4 linked regions of the Homo sapiens genome follow. The protein of the gene in region 2 purifies or fractionates together with the protein of the main gene of each other region. This does not show direct contact. Each region holds a gene or a part of one and is shown on either strand. Other genes may lie near its edges. The genes, in order: UBE2O, EPB41L5, NAP1L1 and VANGL1.

The links.
Region 1: the proteins of EPB41L5 (region 2) and UBE2O purify together in Homo sapiens (affinity purification with mass spectrometry; 4 studies listed by BioGRID and IntAct, with this or other methods). This does not show direct contact.
Region 3: the proteins of EPB41L5 (region 2) and NAP1L1 purify together in Homo sapiens (affinity purification with mass spectrometry; 3 studies listed by BioGRID and IntAct, with this or other methods). This does not show direct contact.
Region 4: the proteins of EPB41L5 (region 2) and VANGL1 purify together in Homo sapiens (co-immunoprecipitation; 3 studies listed by BioGRID and IntAct, with this or other methods). This does not show direct contact.

Annotation. Positions count from the first base shown.
Region 1 is NC_000017.11:76,401,150-76,408,189, forward strand, and holds part of UBE2O ((E3-independent) E2 ubiquitin-conjugating enzyme), read right to left. Parts: intron 4,424-7,040; coding exon 4,364-4,423; intron 4,168-4,363; coding exon 4,057-4,167; intron 1,551-4,056; coding exon 1,453-1,550; intron 979-1,452; coding exon 915-978; intron 6-914; coding exon 1-5. UniProt on the Homo sapiens protein: E2/E3 hybrid ubiquitin-protein ligase that displays both E2 and E3 ligase activities and mediates monoubiquitination of target proteins. Negatively regulates TRAF6-mediated NF-kappa-B activation independently of its E2 activity.
Region 2 is NC_000002.12:120,177,073-120,179,655, reverse strand, and holds the end of EPB41L5 (band 4.1-like protein 5), read right to left. Parts: 3' UTR 537-2,583; downstream 1-536. UniProt on the Homo sapiens protein: Plays a role in the formation and organization of tight junctions during the establishment of polarity in epithelial cells.
Region 3 is NC_000012.12:76,074,670-76,081,709, forward strand, and holds part of NAP1L1 (nucleosome assembly protein 1-like 1), read right to left. Parts: intron 1-7,040. UniProt on the Homo sapiens protein: Histone chaperone that plays a role in the nuclear import of H2A-H2B and nucleosome assembly.
Region 4 is NC_000001.11:115,644,951-115,651,990, reverse strand, and holds part of VANGL1 (vang-like protein 1), read right to left. Parts: intron 715-7,040; 5' UTR 578-714; coding exon 507-577; intron 1-506.

The sequences.
Region 1 (7,040 bases), on a different chromosome or scaffold from region 2:
AGACCCTGCGGGATGTGGGGCCAAAGGAAAGTCCCCGTGAGCGGTGTCTCCATGGGTGACCATGCTCTCCACGCCTGTGCCCGCTGGCTGCCCACCTGCAGAAGCCCACTCACACACACGCCCCACACGCCCTAAAACAAGTCCTGTGGCTCCACATCAGCACTTCCCAAACCCTGGGTCCGCAGAGGTCATCTGGCGCCCTTGTTCAAACATAGGTGATGCATTCCATGCTCCTTGGTCAAGGGCTCATACTCTGAGGAATAAGACTCCAGAGAGCAGTGGTCCTGAAACCTGTTTGCTCACGCACCCCCTGTATATCTACTTGTTTGCTGTGTGTGTCCATGTACTATTGTAACTAACACATCATCCTGTACTGAGAGAGACAAAGTGGAACCTTAAAGGATGAGAAAAAAAAGCTACCAAAAATGCAAATAAAAGTTCTAATACTGCCGGGCGCGGTGGCTCACGCCTGTAATCCCAGCACTTTGGGAGGCTGTGGGCAGATCACCCGAGGTCAAGAGTTCGAGACCAGCCTGGCCAACATGGTGAAACCTCATCTCCACTAAAAATACAAAAATTAGACGGGTGTGGTGGCACACGCCTGTAATCCCAGCTACTCGGGAGGCTGAGGCCAAAGAATCACTTGAACCCGGGAGGTGGAGGTTGCAGTGAGCCGAGATCGCACCGTTGCACTCCAGCCTGGGCGACAGTGAGACTCTGTCTCAAAAAAAAAAAAAAAAAAAAAAGTTCTAATACTTTCTGCCTATACCCAAACTTTTAGACCCTCTGGCGCGCACCCGCCCCTTTTCTAGGAAACCGCTCTGTTTAGCTGGGTCCAGGTCTTTGCTACGAAGTCCTCCTTCCAGAGGACTGAGCAATCAGAGAAGGGTGCTGGCCTGGATGGAGCACACTACCGAGTCGCTGACGTGCGGGCAGACGTCGTAGAGCTTGGCGCCATCTTCCGTGTTCATGGAGCACCTAAAACAGAGAACAGAGGTTTGGTCTCCACCAGGGGACACAGTGAGTACCAAAAAGTTGCGATTCTGAGATGCCAATGCGCCCACATGCCCTAAATAGCACAATTCGTCTTCTACCATCAACTCAGCCCGAGGTAGTACAAGAAACTCTCCCACAACGAACAAGACCCCAAGTGCCACTGGAGTGCTTGCTCAGCACCATCACAGTGCCTCAAGTAAAGCATCAGCCTCTAGCAGATATCCTCAGTGAAAACGTTTCTCCCCATGCCAGGACAGATCAGAAACTGAGCAACAGAAATAGGCCACGGCAGATAAGGAGAACGGTACAGGGTTAGGCCCTGGATGCCTGCAACATCTGTCACTGCCCTTGATCAAACCTGTCATCACTGTCCCCAGGAGGAAACACCCTCCTCCTCCCCTCTTTCCAAGAGGCTATCCTTCCCAAGCCGATGGCTCTCTGGTGGTGAGACTCTACCTGGCGCCGTTGGATAGCTTCAGGATGATCTGGTTCTTCAAGTCGTAGACCTTCCCCAGCCAGCAGTCATAGGCAATGTAGTCCCCATACATGAAGGGCTGCAGACCAAGGAGGCAGGGGCAGTGAGACACAGCAGACAACGTTCATGTCCAGGGCACAGATTCCTCTATGCCCCACCGAAGACAGGATGGGGGAGGATCTAGACAGCTCACTGACTGGACCGGTTGGCTACTAGCCCTAAACAGCTGCTGCAGCAGGCCCTCCCTACAAGTTCTAGGCTGCATCCCAGCTGCTCTTCCCAGTGAGGAGGAAGTGGTGGTGGTGGTGGGGCTGCCTGGAGGGAACGGGGTGGGTGATGCAGGGGCAGAGAGGCCTGATGGCATCCATGGACATGGGACATCCATGGACACAGGACACCTGGCAAAGTAGGCTGTGGAGGTGGCAGGCAGAGGAGGCAGCCACACCACTGGGGGGTGGCTACATGGACAGTGCTCTGAGTAAATACGTTAACACATCAAGGATATCGAGAGCCAAGTCCCTCATTGTTGGAGAAGGTGCCCAGGTGTTTACTAACAGAAAGGGAGCAGGAAGGAGAAGAAGGAAGAGGAGTCTGAGGTGTTTAGGTGGAAGTGGATCTATCAGGATGAACTCATATATTTTATTTTACTTTATTATTATTTTTTTTAGAGACAGGGTCTTGCTCTATTGCCCAGGCTGGAGTGCAATGGTGTGATCTTGGCTTAATGCAACCTCCATCTTTGGGCTCAAGCGACTCTCCCACCTCAGTCTTCTGAGTAGCTGGGACTACAGGCATGCATCACCGTGCCTGGCCAATTTTTTCATATATTTTGGTTGAGATGGGGTTTCGCCATGTTGCCCAAGCTGGTCTTAAACTCTTGAGCTCAAGTGATCCATCTGCCTCAGCCTCTCAAAGTGTTGGGATTACAGGGGTGAGCCACTGCGCCCGTGAACTCTGCCTGAACTCATATATTTTAATATACACATAGAGCAGGTAGTGACATATTTAGATGTGTGTATACATATAATACATATGTATTTCCTAGTGTGTCCCAAAAGAGCCAAGTAGCAATTAGCACACCTAGCATCCAGATCTTGGGTTTTAAAAATACCATTCTCTGAAAACAATGAGGCTTCTTGGAGAAATGGTTGATTCTGGGGCTGGATCACAAAAAGTACAAGATGAGCCTGGCACATCTCATGCCAGAAAGAAAGAAAGTTCTTAAAAAACCAACAAAAAGGGCCATGTGAGAAGGACATGAAAGCCAGCTTGAAGGGGTTCCCACTGGCTAAATCTGGGACCATCCAAGCAACAGAACAGATAATAGTAGTAATTAATTATAACCAATGAATAAAACAGAAATCTCTAAGTCCATACTGATAAAAAAAAAGAATACATAAATAGGGCAGAAGATAAAGCTCTTCTACAGAGCAGAATGCCAGCTAAAAGAAATGAGGGGAACAAGGGAGTCATAGAACCACCATTTAGCAACATCAGAGCAATGGCTGGCGCAGGGGGAACTGTGAATGGAGGCCAAAGCTGGTGGATTTCAGTTTGACAAATGACAGGTTATAGACATAATCTGGGACTACGTTCCCACAAAATACAATCACTTAAAGGGGGTAAATGGTGAGTTTATGGTGGAGAGACCTGGTGGACACCAACATGACCAGGGGTAAAAGTGAACAACCCCAGCACTTTGGCTATGGGGTACCATGAACCAGGGCAGAGCTCTGCGGCGGGCCTGCCAAGAACACGTGGGCATGAGGCAACACCAGGAAGACCCAGGCTGAGGGTCAAATTACTGAATGTATCACTGTTCAGGGCATGGAAGACAAAGAAAGGCTGGGAAGCGATTCCAGATTGGAGAGAAAATGAAGAGATGACAACTCAATGCAAGATGTGTTCCTGAATTGGGTCCTGGATCCGCAAAGAAGAAAAGAGTAGTGTTGGGACAACTGCATGTGGTCTGTGGACTGGACAGTAATTATCAACGTTGATTTCCCAATCTGGGGGTTATATGGTGGTTGCACAGGAGGCTGTCCTCATTTTTGGAAAACACACAAGAGGTGTGTGTATTCCGGGGTGGGTGACAGGGCATCACATCTATAGCTTGCTGTCAAATGTTTTGGGAAGAAAAAAGACCGGAGGGGGATCTCGGGGAAAAGGAGGGAGGGAAGGTGATGGAGCAAACGAAGTGAAATCTTAACAGCTGAGGAACCTGGATGGAGGGACACAGGAATTTACAACTTTTGGTAAGTTTGAAATCATTAAAAAAATAAACTATTTCCAATAATTTATTTTTTTAAAGAAATGTTAGAGGAGAAAGGAAAAACACTTAAAGATAACCACACTGGCAGCCTATGCTGGGGTTGGGGAAGGGCACGTCCTGACCTCATGTCTAAATGGCTTACTTGAAAGCAGCGAAAACAAGGCTACAGGAGCCAGCTGGCTGCTGTGCTCCGCCTTCTGACCCAGGAAGGCTGTGCTTGGCAAGAGCACGGAGGAGGCTGTAGCCCAGAGGTCGTGCCGCCGAGAGAACCAGAGGGCCCAGAAAGGATGATGAGAAGACAGGGCCGGCTCACCCAGATGTGCTGCAGGTCCTTGCTGTTGACGGGATAGATGATGCAGTTGGTGCCGATGAGCTTGACGGCACAGTCGATGTTGACGTCGATCACCGTGCCACACTGACTGTCCTGGGGGAGGGAGGAGACATGCAAGTCCCGTGGTGCAGCAGCCCTGGTCACCAGGGGAGACCCAGCCCAGGCAACCCCAGCGCACCCCCTGCAGAGCTGGCCAGTTCTCCCACATGCAGAGTGCGAGGTGGGCAGGCTCAAGTCCCTAAGGTGGCTGCCCCCAGGCCCGGGGCTGGGGTGGGGACGCAGGACTCACGGTGGATCGCATGTGCCGGACCACATCTCGGGGCACCACAGAACGGTCCTCTAGTTTCAGCTGTAAAAGAAAATACAGGTGTGAGAGAATGGACTCTGAAGCCACCACAGAATACAGTTTTCTTCCAGCTTCTGAAGGAAAGCGTCACATCCACACTGCTAAGTGCACAAATCCTAAGCGTTTGGCTAGCAGTATCTTCACAGACCGCACACACCTCCGACCAGCACCCAGACCCACAGGCAGAGCGCGTCACGCCCACAGGCCTCCTGGGGCCCCTGTGGTCACTGTCTCACCCACCAGAGGCACTTGGCTTGCCGGAGGTAGCCTTCCTCACACTGAACAGTGCAGCTCAATGACAGATCACATAAGGCTGCACTTTAATGAAGGATTTAACAGCCCATTCTACAGAGAGCAAAACATTTGCTTTGCGTTCAATCTTTTTTCTGCCCTCTGCAAGTGCCTGCCCTAGCTGATCAGTGCTGAGGGAGAGTGGGCTGGGGGAGAAGCAGGACACTGGGCTGCGGTGGGTCACCCTGAAGCCTGGCTATCACCGGACACCATGTTCTAATCTGGGTTATCCTCCTGACCAGCTGCGGCCTGCACCTTATCTGCTGCGCTTGGAGCCCTGCAGGCTGCTAAGTAACCCTCAGGATGGTTGGCTCTTGGAGCCCGGCCAACTGCACGAGCACCTGATTGTCTCTTTACGCACAGCTGGCAGCGGCCACTGCCTCCTGCTGCTCCATCGCCCAAAAGCCCAGGCACGTGATGCTCCCACCAGGCCAGCCTGCGTCTTTTTTAGCTGGTTCCTCAAACCTGGGGCAGCTCCTCTATGGTTCTTCACTGGGTCATAATCATGGATGGGTCTCTGTGTGTGTCCACCTCCGAGACCCCAAACCACATGGCTGGAGAGCTGTTTCCTCAAATAGCCAACCAGACACTCCTCCGTGGTGGCCTCTCTTGACCTGGGGGCACTGAGAGGTCACCACCAAGAAAGGAGAACTGAGTCGCCGAAAAAGGAAGATACTGGCTCAAGGTCACTTAAATGCTGGCAATGACAACTAAAACAAACTCTGCTAGTAGAAGAACGTGACTCACAAAAAAAAAAAGGAAAGAAAAGCAATGAACCCCACCACCAACCAGCAGTGCAGAGAGTCCCATGGGAACTCATGAGCCCAAGTTGTTTTTTTTTTTTTTTTTTTTTTTTTGAGATGGAGTCTCGCTGTGTTGCCCAAACTGGAGTGCAATGGCGCAGTCTCGGCTCGCTGCAACCTTCGCCTCCCAGGTTCAAGCAATTCTCCCGTCTCAGCCTCCCGAGTAGGTGGGACTGCAGGCACGTGCCACCACGCCCGGCTAATTTTTGTATTTTTAGTAGAGATGGGGCTTCACCATGTTGGCCAGGCTGGTCTCGAACTCCTGACCTCGTGATCTGCCCACCTCAGCCTCCCAAAGTGCTGGGATTACAGGCGTGAGCCACTGCATCCAGGTATGAGCCTGTTTCAAATGACAACTTGCCCAGTCCTTAAACGCAGGGTTCTTGAGTCAGACACAGGAACGTCAGGCAAACCACTCCTGCCGACATGTGGAAGGAGAGATGATGGCAGCTGTCTCAGCATGGCTGAGGTGGAGTCACCAAGGCAGCGGACCGCAGGTGGCACATGGTGCACGGTACAGAGTAGGTGCTCAGCAAGGTCGGCAGCTGTGATCACTGGCCCTGTGAGCTGCAGGGTGAAGACCCCTGAAAGGTCAGGCTCTCCTTATCTCTGCTCCAAGACCCCAGGAGGCTGGAGAGGCATGCTGGCGTGACGGTGCCACTTTTCTAAATCAAAGAATATTCTGTGCCTGTAACCCTCTGTGCCCAAATCTCCACTCTGAGATACGGCATTTTTTTGTGCTGCCCCACCCTATCTTAATCCCCTGCTCCCATTTTAGACTTCAAAAAGCCACAATTGCTCCCAGAGAAGCCAGAAGCGGCAGGACAGGAGAATCCAATGCAAGGGGGGCTGCACCATGTGTGGCAGGAGGGCTGCCTCCACCACTTGGGGGTCCCTGAGAGAGCAGCCAGGAAAGGAGGAGAGAAGAACGCAGACACAGACCTAAATCAGTGCCGTCACTGATGAAACACCCTGTTCAGCCTAACAGCACCCTTGGGAGTGCAGGGGAAACCGAGGTGTCAACTCTGAGGCTGAAGCAGAAAAAAACAGCTGGTGAAAGCTGGCATCATGGCAAGGCCAGAGGCTGGCAGGGCAGGCAGTGCCCAGTGCTCCCAGGAGAGGGAGGCTGGCAGCAAATGCCATTCTTCCCGTGGGGTCTCCAGACAACAGCAGCTCCACCTCACCAGGATGCTGCCTCCAGGGGCTCTTCTGACCTTTCTATGACAAGGAGTTACATTTCTCCAAAGACCTGATGGTGCTGGGAGCAGAGTGGGAGCGACAAGGGGCTGGGGGATGGTAACATGGTGGCTACACTCCCTTCCACTGGGAATTAGAACCCAAGACAACGGCATGTGGAAGGACTTAGGATGACTTGGGAGGCTCTTGTGACTTTCCTTCCTAACTTCCTATACCCCACCCATACTGGGCACTGGCTTTCTCCAAATAAGCCCATACCCTCCCATCTGTGAGCCACTCCACTGAACAGTTACTTCCAAATGTCCTCCTCTCCCTGCCCCCGTATGCAC
Region 2 (2,583 bases):
AGAAGACTTCCAACTTTTCTCAGCTTTGCCAACACCCATATGGTGCAGTATGACTCTGCCCAGCAGAAGTCCTGAAACCAACCCAGGTGGCACTGTTCCTCGCTGGATGGTGCAGTGCAAACCCAGAGAAGGCTGGGGACTGGTGGGCGCCAAGAGAAGGAGAAGTCAACACCTGCATACTCTACCACACGCTGTGACACACACTTCATGTGCCATTTCAGACAAAAAACCTGAGGTATTAAGCAGTAGAGCCCAGATCCGATGTCCAAAGCTGTGGTGATACTGCACCATGCTGTCCTTGGAATGACCACCGTGCCTTCCAGGATATGCTGGGGATGACCAATGAGGTTTTCAACCTTTGAAAATGCCCCTACTCCCAAATTTACACCACAAAAACATGGAAATCAACCTAAAAACAGTGCGGCTGCTTCTGCTCACTTCCTCAGGTTTGTACCAACAGTGGATCTGGTCTAACTCTGTTGAGGTCAGCATGTAGGAATCACAGTTCCAAGAAACAGAAACAGTGCACAAAAACATGAATGTCTCACGAAGGTTTATTTGAATAGAGTTACATCTAGAGTTCTCATTTCAGTGTACAAACAACTCAGTGCAGTGTTTCTAATACAAGTCATATAAAACTGGAACACACTAAATGAATAGTGCACTTGATAGAAAAATAAATTACACTTTAAATGCTACTGCAAAGTTTTACACATATAAAAGGTAAACACAAAATAGTTAGTGAGACCCTCATAACCACTTATCATATCCAGATAAGGAGATAAAAGGGGCAAAGGAATCTGTGCTATAAAAAAAAATCTCTCTGAAGAGGAGAAATCCTGACAAGTAACTGAATGATCATCTCAAGCAATGTGGTGACATAGGGACTTACAGATCGTATCTCTTAGAACTGGGAAGGAATCATAGCTCTACCAATGTGTTAACACAACCCAGTTCAGCTCAGGGCAAATTTCTATAATTCAAACAAATGTCCTCATACTAACGCCTAATATGTAGGAAAAGTTTCCAACTTTCTTCTGACCACTGAAGAGGTACAGTGTTTAAATTTTTGAGAGGATAAAAAGGACAAATAATCTAGAAATGTGTCTTCTTCAGTCTGCAGAAGACCCCAGGTCTCCAAGCAACCACATGGTCAAGGGCATGAATAATTAAAAGTTGGTGGGAACTCACAAAGACCCTCAGAGCTGAGACACCCACAACAGTGGGAGCTCACAAAGACCCTCAGAGCTGAGACACCCACAACAGTGGGAGCTCACAAAGACCCTCAGAGCTGAGACACCCACAACAGCACCTCGTTCAGCTGCCACATGTGTGAATAAGGATGCAATGTCCAGAAGTGTTGGCTGCCTCCAAGTGACAGGTAACACTGCAGAACCTATCTGAGGACCTGCCAGCCTCCCGTTTCACGCAGCCACTCTGCTGCTCTACAAAGTTTCACATCAGGGGTCAGCGGCTTTGTAAAGGGGACTCCGCAGGAACACAGCTGTGCTGGGGCTGCTGCTGCTGTACTGCGCCAGCAGAGCTGAGTGGGACAGTATTTACCATCTCTGGTCCTTTACAGAACAAGACTGCTGACTCCTCTCAATGACAAGACAAAAACTCTGCTTCTCGAGACTCTTACTTAGAAAAATAGCAGATTTTTCTCTCTGTGACTGATAAATAATTCTGCTAACAAGACTTCTGAAGGAAATCTTCATTTTGGGGCTTAGCTAAGAGAAGAAGAGGTGCAAGTTTTAGCCAGAAGTGAGAAGCATAAGATAACAAGTAGTCCAGATCCAAGAACCCAAGAACAACTCAGGGCTTTCATCCTTAAATCTCCATAGGATATCTGTGATTGTACAAAGGCAAAGGCTAGAGACAAATGTTAGGAGACTATAAGAAATATTTTTAAAAGTTTTTTCTTAAAACAATGTATAAATGTTAAGGAAGTAAGCACACAAGGAACAGAATCATTCCTCTGTTCAGCAGTGTCTCCTGAAGAGTAGGAATGAAATGACCATGACCTCCTGTGTGTCAAAAGATGATGCTACTGACATGTCACAAATTAGGTCTCACTGATTAATTTACAAGTTCTCAGGCAAAGTCTAGAGCAGGTAACTGAAACCTTCACGTCTTATTTTAAACCATCCTGTCAACTCCCACTTCCCCTATCAGGGCTATGAAATGGACTGAGTTGAGGTTCCTCTCCTGTCTGCCCGCAGGGAGGCAGCACTATCTGCTCCCCGCCACCCCACCGTGCTCCGTCCGAGGCGTGCACGGCAAACCCTCAGCAGTGCCCCCGGCTGCCCCTTCTCCAACCTCAGCCCAGTCTCACCAGCCTGCTTCTCACCCACTATCATCTCCAACCTTTCTCTTTGAACCCATCAAGGATGCCGGCACACATGCCTCTCTCTTCTCAAGAGACAGACATCTCCCCTTCCCTACCTGCCACATTCGTAGACCACCTCAGCCCTGCCTCTCCCCACCACACTGTTCTCAGGGGAGCAGAACAGGAAGAGCTGTTACAGCAGCTCTGCGCATGGCAGCAGCAGCAGCTATGACAGGAAACCAATCCCCAACACG
Region 3 (7,040 bases), on a different chromosome or scaffold from region 2:
ATTTAGCAATATTCATTTTATGTAATTCATGTTTAAGAAAACCAAAATCTGATGCCTACTGTACTCACTATGCCCTCTGGATATCTTTTTAAAAGACTTAATCCCTGGATCAAATAGCCATTTAGACTATTTCAAAAGCTCTAGGTCCCAATCTTAATGTTAGGTAAGCCTTCCCTATCTCTCCAAATGTACATGTACCTCATGTTAGATAACTGACAACCACCAACCTCCAGCTTCCCCTAGATATGCTAGGGACATTGTCAAGACTTGTGGTTACCAGACCTGAGTAAGTTTACTGTTAAGACTCACCAGAGGATATCCTAAGTTCCTTCTCACTAAAAGATTAGTATGAACCTGGAGAATACTGCTTTTGGAAAAACAAATCTTAAAGCAGATGTGTTATATCCAGGCAGAAAAAAATGGTAGAATGCCACAGGTAATCTACAGATTACCAAAAAAAACTAAACCAAGTTTAGATAGAATCCATGTTAAAATCAAGTTTATCTTAGCCAGGCACAGTGGCACGAGCCTGTAATCCCAGCTGCCCAAGAGCCTGTAATCCCAGCTGCCCAAGAGACAGGAAGATCTTTTGAGCACAGGAGTTCAAGGCCTGCCTGGGAAATACAGCAAGACCCTGTCTCTAAAAAAATTATGAATAAATAGAATCAAGTTATCTGGTAAAAATTAAAATCTTAATACATATTTAATTCACAAAATCCTGCATGTGTTTACTTTCATAGCAACGTATTATGCCTATGAACAAAGAGTTAAAAATGGAAAACATCCTGATTTTAGCAGTTAAGTGCTAATATTTGGGGGAAACATTATTACTGACCTAGTATCTATCCTTTAGAGTAATTATAAAGAAAATTATTCTTCCTAATGTATCTAACTCTGTAAATATTTTGTATTTGTTATAAATAATTCCTAATAGTACTGATGAATTTTTCTAGTGATGCTGGGTAATGAGTCAGCATTTACAAAGTGTTTAGCAATTATGAATATTAATCAAAAATAAGAAAAATACTGAACTCTGACATCAAAGAAATCCAAGTAGGATTCCAGTTTGTCTACCACATCATCAATAACTTCTTTTTAATACAGGGAAACCTGTAGTGCACATGCATCCTTATTTCCAGCTAGTGTTCCCGTATCTTTTCTGGAGAGCAACCTGACAATAGGAATATCAAAAGCCTTAAACATGTCCATCTCAGCCAGGCACCATGGCTCACACCTGCAATCCCAGCACTTTGGGAGGCCGAAGCAGAAGGACCGCTTGAGGCCAGGAGTTCAAGACAAGCCTTGGCAACACAATGAGACACTGTCTCTTAAAAACATAAAAATTAAAAAAACAAAATATGTCCATCTCCAGATTTATTCACTTATGAGCTCTACCATGAAAAAATTATAAAGAATCTAATGCCTTTGCTTTCCATGTTCACCTAGAAGGTTCTTCCACAGCTCTGAACAAGTCCTGCACATCCTTTGGCTCTCATTTCAAAGTTTCACTCCCCAGAGATGCTTTCTCCAACCTGCACATTCCGGTTAAGTAAGATTTCTTGGTTGTACACACACTCCTATAAAGCTTTCTTTTCTTTCCACCATAAGATGTCTCAGTCTGTAATTATAAATTAGTTTGACCTATGGTCTGTCTCTCCCAACTGACAAAATTCATGATTACAGGAATTAAATCTGATCTTGACAATCATAGCGTTGTCTTCTTTGGGGTAGCACACAAAGCTTATTATAAACTTAGTACTATAATGGAATATGCAAAAATGGAATGCTTTGCAGTCACAAATGAAACAGATCTGAGTTGATATGAAGGAACACTAAAGCAAGGTATAGGATGTATGCCGAAATCCCCTTTGGATATGGAAATATATATATATATATATATATATATATATATATATATATATATCTCCACTCATATACGCACATACTTTAATACAAATAAACCCTTTCTGAAAACAAACACCAAAAACCTAACCAGAGTAACCTAATGAGAAAGAAGGGACTGGGGGTAATGAGAACTAATTTCCCATTCACCATTACAGTCATGTGTGGATTATATGTTCTGAGAAATGTGTCTCTGGGTGATTGTATTGTTGTTCAAACATCAGAGTATACTTACACAAACCTAGATGGTATAGCCTACTACGCACCTAGGCTATGATATAGACTATTGCTCCCAGGCTACACACCTATACAGCATGTGACTGTATTGAATACCATAGGCAACTTTAATATAATGGCTAAGTATTTATGTGGTGCATGACTGCATTTGGTTTTCCAACACACAGATTTATATAATAATTTCCAATACACAAATTTATTCTGAGATTTGCTAGGTTTAATATATAGTGTCTACTAAACCCAGCAATTGTCAAAAACAGAAACAAAACCTAAAACTTCCAAATTTAAATTTTTGTAACATTTTAATGTGTTCACAGAATGGCTACACTGCTAACCTCAATGTCCATTTGCAGCATTACATTTACAGTTTAAATTCTTAAAATGAAACTTTAGTAAAGAGGATCCAAGACAGAACATTTACAGAACATTAACAGGAGGCATTTACTCCTCCAGAGAAGGCTGCTCTAACCTGCCCATTCTGGCTACATTGTATTTCTTGGTTGTAAGATAGACCTAATTTTCTAGTCAGTTGTAGTCAGATCATTTGGGCTGACATCAACTTTGTAGCAATCTACAAACTAAGACAAACAACTTCTGGCTCTATTTCATCATCTATATAAAGCAGAAAAACATCTGAGGAAGTGGGACCCAAAAATCTGCATTCTAAACAAGAAACTCAGCTTCTGAGAGGTGGTTCTCAGGTAGACCACATTGAGAAACACAAGTTTAGGTTAATACCTGTATTAATATTTTACTGCAGTTGACATTAAATAAAATCAGTGAGAATCTTATTTGTTATACATTAAATTGCATTCCAAGATCTCTGTGAAAAACTTTCATTCCTGAAAGCGACAAACTAGATTATGCAGATCAATTCTACCAATGAAAAATATGGCCGGACGCAGTGGCTCACGCCTGTAATCCTAGCACTTTGAAAGTCCAAGGCAGGCGAATTGCCTGAGCTTAGGAGTTAGAGACCAGCCTGGGCAAAATGGTGAAACCCAGTCTCTACTAAAATACAAAAAATTAGCCGGGCGTGGTTGCACACACCTGTAGTCCCAGCTACTCAGGAGGCTGAGGCAGGAGAATTGCTTGAACCCAGAGGAGGAGGCTGCAGTGAGCCGAGATCACACCGCTGCACTCCAGCTTGGGTAAGAGCAAGACCCTGTCTCAAAAAAAAAAAAAAAAAAAAAGGAAAAGAATTAAAAGTACAGATGTTTTTTAACAAAAACATTTTGTTAAAAATCTTAAAAGCACTGAAATGCTAACAAGATAGTAAGGAATCACCAGCCCAAAACTGAGGGCAAAACAGGAGCAGAAGGAAGGCACTTTTGCACTGAGGTCAACTGCCAATTATCAGCAACGTGAACTTTGGTTTTAACCAAAGTTAAAATTCTGGGCCTGTCCACGGTGGCTATCTTTATGGTAACCCTCCCAAATTAAGCAGGAACCCCAAAATGCTATATCCTCAAGAATAAATTCATTCTCCTGGACAAACAGCCCAAATTTACCTCATCTGTATTGCCCTCCAAACCCCAAGCTATGTACTTAAAATGATCTGTCCCTGGTATATTCAGACACCTGTATATCAAAATTAAATGAAAGCTTCCTTCTAGACCTTAAAAAATTCATACAAGTAATTTTCACAGCCAACAGGAAAAACAGAAAATATAACAGAAATCAATCCTACACAAAGACTTAAAAATTGTCAGACTATAAACAAATACATACCTACAGACATAGTAAGCCTGGTTGTCTTTGATCTAAGTTTGAAAACACACTGTCTGCAAGGAAGTCATCTATTAAAGGTGATATAACAAAATTTGGAAAACTAGAACTTCTAGAAATAAAACTAATGAATCAAACTAAATGGGCTGGCTTAAGAGTAAGATACACAGCTGAAGAGAGAATTAAGTGAGCTGAAATGAAGCCTAGAAGAAAACTTTGAAAATATGGCAGAGCCACAGAATCTAAAGGACTGAAAATACTGAAATGAAAAGACATGTTAAGATCCAATGAAGCCTAATAAAGACTTCATACAAGTTCTGGGAGCAGGAGGACAGAATATTTGAAGAAGTTAATACGCAATAATTTTCCATTTCCTTAAGTGATGAAAGACACCAATCCACAGATTCAAGTAGCCCTACAAATCAAAACCATAAAATAAAGAATCCATATATATATATACACACACACACACACACATATATTTATCCAGCTCCGGATACATCAGTAAAAAGGCAAGATAGCAAAAACAAATTCATCTCAAAAGCACACACAAAAAAGGTAGATTAACTTCAAAGGCACAAAAAGACTGACAGCTGTCTTCTCTTCAATAAGACACTAAAAGACAACAGAATCCTCAATATGTTGAAAATAACTAAGGCTCTTAAAATACTATCCCCAACCAAAACATCTTTTAAGAATGAAGGTGAGGCCATGTGCGGTAGCTCACGTCTATAGTCTCAGCACTTTGGAAGGCTGGGGCAGGAGGATCGCTTGAGGCCAGGAGTTCAAGGCCAGCCTGGGCAACACAGATCATCTCTACAAAAAATTAACATGCCTGCTGTAGTCCTAGCTACTCGGGAGACTGAGGCAGGAAGATCACTTGAACCCAGGAGTTTGAGGTTACAGTGAGCTATGATCGTGCCACTGCACTTCAACATACCTCCTTAAAAAAAAATCTGTAATGTAAAAGACAGTTTCAGAATAAAACACTAATCAGAGTTGGTATCACGTATTAATGTCAGGAAAAAATAGACTTCAAGGAAAAACATTAAGATAAAAAGGTCACTTTATAATAAAAGGTTCATACATATATGGTGTGTATAAGATCTCAAAAGACATAACTGACCCTAAAAACATGCTTGAAGGCATTTTTTTTTTTTTTTTGGAGACAAGGCTTTGCTCTATTGCCCAGGCTATAGTGCAGTGGCGTGATCACAGCTCACTGCAGCCTTGACCTCACAGGCTCAAGTGATCCTCTCACCTCAGCCTCCTGAGTAGCTGGGACTACAGGTATGCATTCTCCACCACACTCAGCTATATTGTTTTAATTTTTTTTGTAAAGACAGGGTGTCTCACTATGTCGCCTAGACTGGTCTGGAAATTCTGGGCTCCCGCCTTGGCCTCACAAAGTGCTGTGATTGATTACAGGTGTGAGCCACCACACCTGGCCTCCTGAAAGGAAATCTTCCTTCCTAAACTGAACTAAAAACAAAATCTTCCACTGAAGAGGGGAGGCAACTGACTGAACTAATTGGATACATAGAGCTGACATAAGGCTAAGAAACCATTACCCAACTGCAGTCACATAACGTTTCAGTCAACACAGGACTGCATATACAACAGTGATCCCACAAGATTATAATGGAGCTGAAACATTCCTATTGCCTAGTAATGTCACAGCTCAATTCATTATTCATGTTTGTGGTGATGCTGGTATAAACAAACCTACTGCAGAGTCATATAAAAGTATGGCACTTACAATTATTTACAGTACATAATACTTGATAAGGACAATAAATGATTTATTGGTTTATGTATTTACTATACTATGCTTTTTGTGGTTAGAGTACACTCCAACTTATTTTTAAAAAAGTTAAAACTGCCTACAGTATTCAACATAGCAACATGCTATACAGGTTTGTAGCCTAGGAACAACAAACAGGCTATACCATATAACCCAGGTATGTACTAGGCCGTACCATCTAGGTTTGTGTAAATACATTCTATGACATTCACAAAAGGATGAAATGGCTTAATGATGCATTTCCCCCAGAACACATCCCCATCATTAACCATGCATGACTGTGTATGTAAACAAATTCTATGCTGGAAGAAGACTTCATGACCATAACTGCTATACAGCTTTTCCCTAGAGCACAGTGGGATACAAGGTGGAGTGCTTTTGAATTTCATGCTGCTATGGTTTGAGTATTTGTCCCCTCTAAAACTCAAGTTGAAATTTAATCCCCTATGTGGCAGCACTGAGAGATGGGGGTCTTTAAGAAGTGATTGGATCATGAGGGCTCCACCCTCACAAACGAATTAATCCATTCATGGATTAATGTATTTCTTTATAAATTACCCAGTTTCCCACCAGGGGAGCTGGAGAGCCAAGCTACCCAGTTAGCACACTCAGCCCCCTCCCCATGTGATACCCTGTACTGCCTTGGGAACCTTCAGAGTCTCCACAAGTAAGGTTCTCACCACATGGGTCCCCTCGATCTTGGATTTCTCAGCCTCTATAACTGCAAGAAATAAATTCTTTTTTTTTAAATAAATTACTCAGTTTCAGGTATTCTAAGCAACAGAAAATGAACTAATATTCATGCTGATTTATAGCAGAACAGTGTAAGTCAACATTCTTTCAAAACCAGGATAAAAATTATCTCATCATAAGTTATCACTGCTCACGTACGTAACCACGGACGGGTTATCTAACCACTCCACACCTATTTTTTTTCCTTGTTAAAATGTTGATGCTACCTGTCTCTAAGTAAATTAAATGAGCTAATAATACACACAGAATTTAAAACAATGCCTGAATAATCAATCAGTGTTGCCTATTACATTATTTATCCCTGTTATGCTCTTCTGTACCCTCTTTAGAAAATAATTCCAAGACTGAAATTATAACTCTAGACAGGTGTGGTGGCTCACACCCATACACTCAGCACTTTGGGAGGCCAAGGCAAAATCGCTTGAGGTGAGGCATTTAAGACCAGCCAGGGCAACACAGCAAGAGCCTGTCTCCACAAGGAAAAAATATATATAACCCTGTTTCCCAATAAAAATTAAAATGTACAAAACTTCTGAATAAGTAAAAATATATACAAATATGCAGGAAGTAAAAGGCAGAGTTGGTAACCAAAGGTATAGAAGCCATTTTCTATGGC
Region 4 (7,040 bases), on a different chromosome or scaffold from region 2:
CACAAGGTCAGATCGAGACCATCCTGGCCAACAAGGTGAAACCCCGTCTCTACTAAAAATACAAAAATTAGCCAGGCGTGGTGGTGGGCGCCTGTAGTCTCAGCTACTCGGGAGGCTGAGGCAGGAGAGTGGCGTGAACCCACAAGGCGGAGCTTGCAGTGAGCCGAGATGGCACCACTGCATTCCAGCCTGGGTGACAGAACGAGACTCCGTCTCAAAAAAAAAAAAAGAAATACCTAGAAATGAAAAACATTTCCACTGCAGGAAGAAACTTTAATTTAAAACCAATTGTGAGAAACTAAAGTCATCAACTCTAATGGTGGCTATAAAATGTAAACTGGTGACGTAGTTACTCCCAAGAATGTTAAATGCTCTTAAAGCTCAGCTTCTCATGCACCAACCGACCAAATGTCCAGCGCTGAGTCACTGAAAAGTGAGTGTAGAGAACCCCACCAACCTGTAGGTTTCCCCAAAAGGAAAAGTGTAATAATGAACAACTTACATACCCTTGTCTGTGAGATTTTTTCGAATGACTTGAATAGTAAGAATATCCAGAATAAGTGGATTCGGTATCCATAGCAATGGAGGGCTTGCGCTTGAGGAAGGAGCAGGTACTGTTTCTCCTTAGAGGTAGAAAATTTCACCTACCAGACTCCTAAAACCTCAAGGAGTCTGGAAATTAGAAGAGGAGCCACTCTTCAACAGGAACAAATTCTGGGAAAGAGGGGGAAAAAAAAAGACATTAATCTTCAGAGCCAACCTTAATGGGGCTGAAAGATAAATGACAAAGCCACACCTCCTCTCTGGGGTCTCTATCATGGAACAAGCGAGTGAGGGTGAAGCAACTGAACTGTAAATGCTCCACCCATGCAGCAACCAGTTTTCCCAGGTGTCTGGGAGGGAGACAGGATAGGCGCTGAGCAAGCTGAACCCCTACCACAGCAGCAGGAAAATGGGAGGCACTTGTCCACGTCCTCAGGATGACCTGACCCCTGCTCACTGGCTTTAGGAGGTGGCTTTCCACATCTGCGACCCTCCACACAATGCCCAGCCCCCCACTGCCAGTTTGCTGGTTAAAAAAACAATACCCAGCGAAGTTGCTTTTAAGGGATTTGGTCATAATTTCCAAAAGTCAATTAAAAAAAAAAAAGATCTTCAATCTTTTTGATCTAGGATCCGAATTTCTGGGAATTTATCTGAGGGAACTGATTTCTTTTTTAAAGAAAAATTATTGTGGTCTCATTGTCTATAAATAATAAAATGCTAGAAACAATCTGAATGCCCCCAGAATACAGGAATAGGTAAGGAAAACATGGTTCATCCACCAGAAAAGTATCACATATGTTTAAAATGATCATTATAAAGAATAGAAACTCTTATAATGATGAATTTTAAAAGCAGGATACAGTATTGTTGATACACAGTGAACCAACATTACAGTTACAATTGTATAAAATTGCTTATGTAAGGACAAAGATTTTTAAAAGGAGACACAGAAAATGAAAGCAGGCAATTTATTATTTGCAGGCTCCTGGGTCTTCTCCCACATTTTCATTAGATATTGCTTTGCAATAAAAATAAATTGGAAACATTTCCAAGTACATTCCTGAGCTCCCACATGCTAAAATTTTTACTTCTAGAAAACCGAGATCCACAAGTTCTGTCTCTTTCTGCACCCCTCACCCCAGAGCTAGTCTCAGCTCAACAGGGTTCCTTCTTCCAGCCGCTGGAAGCTGAAACTGCAAACACAGCCAGTGAGATAAGTGTGAAGAAAAAACAAAGGAGCTGTAAATGCCATACCCTAACCCTCCTGGGAGGAGGCCAAGTTTCCCTGACCCCAGCAACAACACATAAGTCTGGAGGGAATCAGGTCAGCACAAATTGCCATACACCACCAATACAGCCCCCACAGCCTCTAATCCCAGTTAGGGTGTATTTACCCTTACCATTCATTCTTCCTGGGAGTCAGGTACGATCACTTCCAAGGTCTGCCACCCAGGGCCAGCCTCCTTTGTCCCTGATGCCCTGACTTACCATTTCACTTCTCCTCTGCCATCAGGAGCCCAAGGCTAGCCCTGGGGAAACCTGAGTTCTAGTCTGAGCCCAGCCACTGTTTAGTACAACCTGGGATAAGCCACTTGCTTTCTTATGCCTCAGTTTCCTCATCTGTTAAACAGGGTAAACCAACCAGCCACCGACCTCACAGGTAGATCTGAAAATATAAGCAGACACAGTTTCCAAAGGTGGGTTCCAATCTCGGGTTTTACTCACTTATTAGCTATCAGGCCCCAGTCAAAATTAGTAAACCTCTTTGAACATGTAACTGTAAAATGCAAATATCAGGGTTGCCGTGAAGACCAAATGAGCTAACAACTATGAAGGCACCCAGCGCGAGCTCCAGATGTGCTAGGTAAACGAAAGTCACTGTCTATCAGCACTCTCTTTGCGGGTTCCGAAATGCTTGTTCCTCTGTCTTTTTAATGAGAGAAATGCTTGGAAAGAAGCAGAGCAGAGTCTCTGTGCCGGCCTTCCTGCCACAAGGCTCACCTGCAGTCAGACAGAACGGAGCACACATCTCAGTCCGCTGCCTACTAACTAGCTGTACACCTGGGCAAAGCAGTTTCTCCTTGGAGCCTCAGAGACTTCCCAATCCATAAAAAGGAAGCAAGGCAGCCTATTATGGTGGGGGTTTGTGGGGGGAGGTAGCTGTAAAGATTAAATGTGAAAACACAGCAGGCCTTTTTTAAATGCTAAGTTTTGCTCCTGGACTTACCCTACTTTCCTAGAAGACTTCAAGGGCTGAGTCATCTTTTTTTCTGCCTACTGTCTCCACCATTTTCACTAGCAATTTCAATCAGCTTTCAACACCTCAGTCTCACTTCCTTTCTGCCCTGGGCTTTGCTGTTTTCTCACCTGCTTCATAACAGGCAGACGTCAACATTAGGATGTGCTTCGAAGATCTCCAGCCCTGAGTGAACTGAGATCCTCCCTGAAAGCCCCTCACCCAGCCTCTGCTGATCTGCAGATTCAAATGTCCAGTTCCCTGGCCCAGAACACCGATTTCCCACTCTCTTCTAGATTCATAATTAACCCTTCACAACTCCTACACTCTGCCTTGCAACCCATAACTCTGGATTCCCCATTCCATCCCAACTTCCAGCTACTTTTTGCTAAATGCTGCTGGAGTGTCTCAGAGGCAGGTGGCCCAGGCCCCGCAGATGTGGGCAGATCCAGCTTGGTGCTTCCTAGCTGTGACATCAGGGGGCAAATGTTTGCCTCTCTGAGCTTATCCAACCCTGCCCCATAAAAATGAGGTCATTTAATACTCTCTCTTCCCAGGGTTCTTGTGAGGATTAAATGAAACTGCAAAGGTAAAGTCTCTGGCACATGGTAACCCAAGTTTTATTCCCTTCCCCCTCTGCCAGAGGACTTCATTCCTTGTCCTCATTGAAAACTTGTGGCCATTCATTAAGACAACTCCAGGCTTGTCCCTCAAAGGAAACCATGGGTCCCAACTGCCCTCCAGGGAAAGGCTTTATCTAACTCTACCAACCACCCTAGTCTGGTTTCCCTCCCATGGTTCCTTCCTGTACTTACCAAAGGAGTGGTCTATACATGCTGTCACTCCCTCCTTCTCCACTTTCAGTCCAAATCTCCATCCACAACACTCCACTGAAACAACTCAAAGTTGGCCAAGGATTGCTATGAGCCAAGTAACATCCTTGTCCTCCTCCCCCAGTGCTTTTTATTTCATTTATTAGTCCATCCACCTCCATATTAAGTGGCACCTACAAGACCATGCTAGGCAATGCTAGGGCACAGCAATGACAAAGGCATGCTGCCTGCCCTAGCAGAGTTTCTCTGCAGCTGGCTAGCCTCCAATTTGATGCCGCTTATGTTACTACTTCTCCTCTAACACTCCCTCTCCTCTCCCCTCATCACGTTATCCCTTGACATTCAAAACTCTTCTCAGTCTTCTCCATCCACAGATTTCCTATGGCAGAAGCTCCTTGAACACAGCAACTACGTCTTACCTCCACCCAGGATATTTTGAACATAGCAGGTACCCAACAAATACTTACTGAAAGACTAAATCCCAAGTGCACATTTCCTACTGAGATTCCTCTTGCTCCCCTTGGGAATACCATCATCCCTCTCATAGGTGCTCTCCAGTATCCTGTCCTGTTCTTCCCAATTCCTCAGCTAAAGCAATACCCTCATCCTAAGGATCTAACCCTGTGCCACCTTCAACACCCTCTCTGATCCTCCCTTCACTCTACTGATTCACAGCCACCCACTTCCTCCAGGCTCCACCTACACAGGGCTAGACCACTACAAAGCCTCCAGGTGTCCTCACCAGCCTATACACAGCTCAGGCCCCTTCTAAGTCATACCGTTTCTAATAGTTACCAACTCTTATCCTATCCAAGATCTGAGTGAGGACTAAGAGGATGCAATAAGAGGCAAACTAATAAAATCCGAAGTGAACTTATTTTAAAAGAGTCTGAGCCAAGGTAAGAACTTCAACAGACTTAATGGAAAAGGATATCCTGAAGCTTACCACTGCAATGATATATCTATGAGATAGTTCCCTTGCATACACAAGAAATTAACCAAACTCATGATAAGGTCAGAAGGAATCCCTTATCAGAAAAGACAATAAAGCAATGAAAAGGAATCAGGTTCCCAGGGTAATACACTGATAGGCTGTCACAGCAGCATGAATAGGACAGTCATATAAAGGTGGGAATATGGCTCCTAGAACCTGGAACTGTCTATCATACTGACCCCTGACATGACTCATATTGTGTTTGGCCCAGGCTGGGCAGCAGCCAGAGTGACCTTTTAAATTACAATGCAGACGTCACTTCCCTGTTTAAAACCTTTCCGTGGTGTCCCACTGCACTTTAAATAAAATACAAAAATCTTTCATTTGGTATGCAATGTCCTGCCCGACGCTCTAGCTCCCTCCTCCTTCTCTAGCCCCAGCTCCTTTAAGGTAGAGTCTTAGGGCTTTGGCAGAGCCCAGTATATCTGTTGGTACTCACCCTTTACATGCCCTGTTTTGCCAAATTCCTACTCATCACTCCTTAATTTAAATACTGCTCCTTTCAAGAGGCCTTTCCTGATCCTTCAATCTCAGTCAGGCTCTTCTCTAGTACCCTGTACTCTTCCTTTCTATCCAACTTCCAGTGATACATTTGTTTGTGTGATCACTTATTGTCTAGTTTCTTCACAGGCTGTAAGCTCCATGAGGGCAGAGGCACTTTCATGACTGCCTGTCTTTCCAGCTCCTAGGACATTATGGGTACCCTATAAATGTCTGCTGAATGAAGGGTTTTGTGGCAGATCTTAGGACATGAGGCCATAGATTCATTGTGGAAGAAACTTTAGAAATTATCTATTTTAAATCCTTAGTTTTAGAGGTGGCAAAAAAAAAGATGCAGATATTAGATAGAGGCGTGATACCAGAACTATCAAAAAAAAAAAAAAAAAAGCTATACTACTGGCTCGCATGGCAGTCCCACTCAGGGGCAGAGTTCGTATGCCAGACACACTGAGTAAAAATCAGCAGCAGCCTCTTTCAGCCACTGCCCAAGAGCATCTTGCCTCACCGGTCACCCACCCCTTAAGAGTGTATTGCTTGGCACTGCTTGGGTAGGGGCTGGAGGCAAATATTAGGACACGGCCAGGCTCATTGAACCACATTGCATGCAGGCAAGGTCAACAATGGGAGATAGGTGCACAGAGTGCTTCTAAGTGGCAGTGTCCTAAATTCTGGACTTCCTAGGCAAAAATGTCAGAAAGAACCTCCTTCACCACCCTTTATCAAAAGCAAAATGAAGATAATCAGCCTCAAACAGAATTCTCTCCTAAAGTCATGTTCACTCATATAAAAATCCTACTACTTAATATGAAAACACAGTGTTTAGCAAATCGTATGAAGGAAATAATATGTTATGATAATGACAGTGGTAAACATAAGCTAACCTTCGCAAAAAGGAAATTATAAAAACATCAACAGCTCTGCCTAGAGCTATTAAGTAATTAAGGGAGCTCTGGTTTGGAAAGTTACTTTGTAAGGGTTACAGAGACACGCACTGAATTTAAAGAGAGATTTTGCTTCCTATGCAGTAAGTAGATCTATTTCCAAGGAAAAGTGGTGTCTGGTACAACCATGCTTATATATGCTGTGTATATTATTCTGAATATTTGATTTTTACATAGAATTCTGCAGAGATTATGCTATTAATTATTATTTATATTATGTCTTGAAGCTAACATTCTTCTTAGGGGTACCCATTCTTAATTAAATGGCACTCAAGGGGAAAGTGACAATTGAAATAATTTTGTTTAGAGTCAACTATTCTTCTAGAGAGTAGCAATGAGCCCAAATTGTGGGTGAAGAGCATTCAAATCCTGGCTCTAGTACTTAGCTGTGTGACCTCAGAACAAGTTACTTAACTGCTCTCTGCCTCAGTTTCCCTAACTGTAACAACAGATTTTATTTTACTTATATTATAGATCTGTGGTAGGTATTAAATGAGATAATTCATAAAAATTATTAGAACAGTGCCTAGCACGTGGTAGGCACTCACAGCTGTCAACTACTACTAGTATTCACTAGAGTAAAATTCCTTCAGTTAGGAAGAACTGAAGGGGTTGTATGGCATATAACTTCTGTATCATTTTCACTGAACTTATACACATTTTTCTGGTCTCTGCTACCACCTTTAACTGCTACTATTAGCTATAGCTGAGTAACAAGTGATTTCTATTCTGTTTCTTACAGGCCTCTATTTACCATCCCCAGGTTGGAAGCAAATGTCAGAGAGACCAGAGGAAACCGTGTGTGTTTTAGTGGGTTTATTTGGAGGGGCATGGGCTGGAAAGGAGCGGGCAGAGATGCAGGGCAAATCTATAAAACATTTTGAACTTGTGGCCTATAAACCACCAAACATCATGCAGGTCACTGATGTGAGGATCTGCTGGGCTTATGGCATTTGTGACAAACCCAATGATTCTTTTATTACAACAGC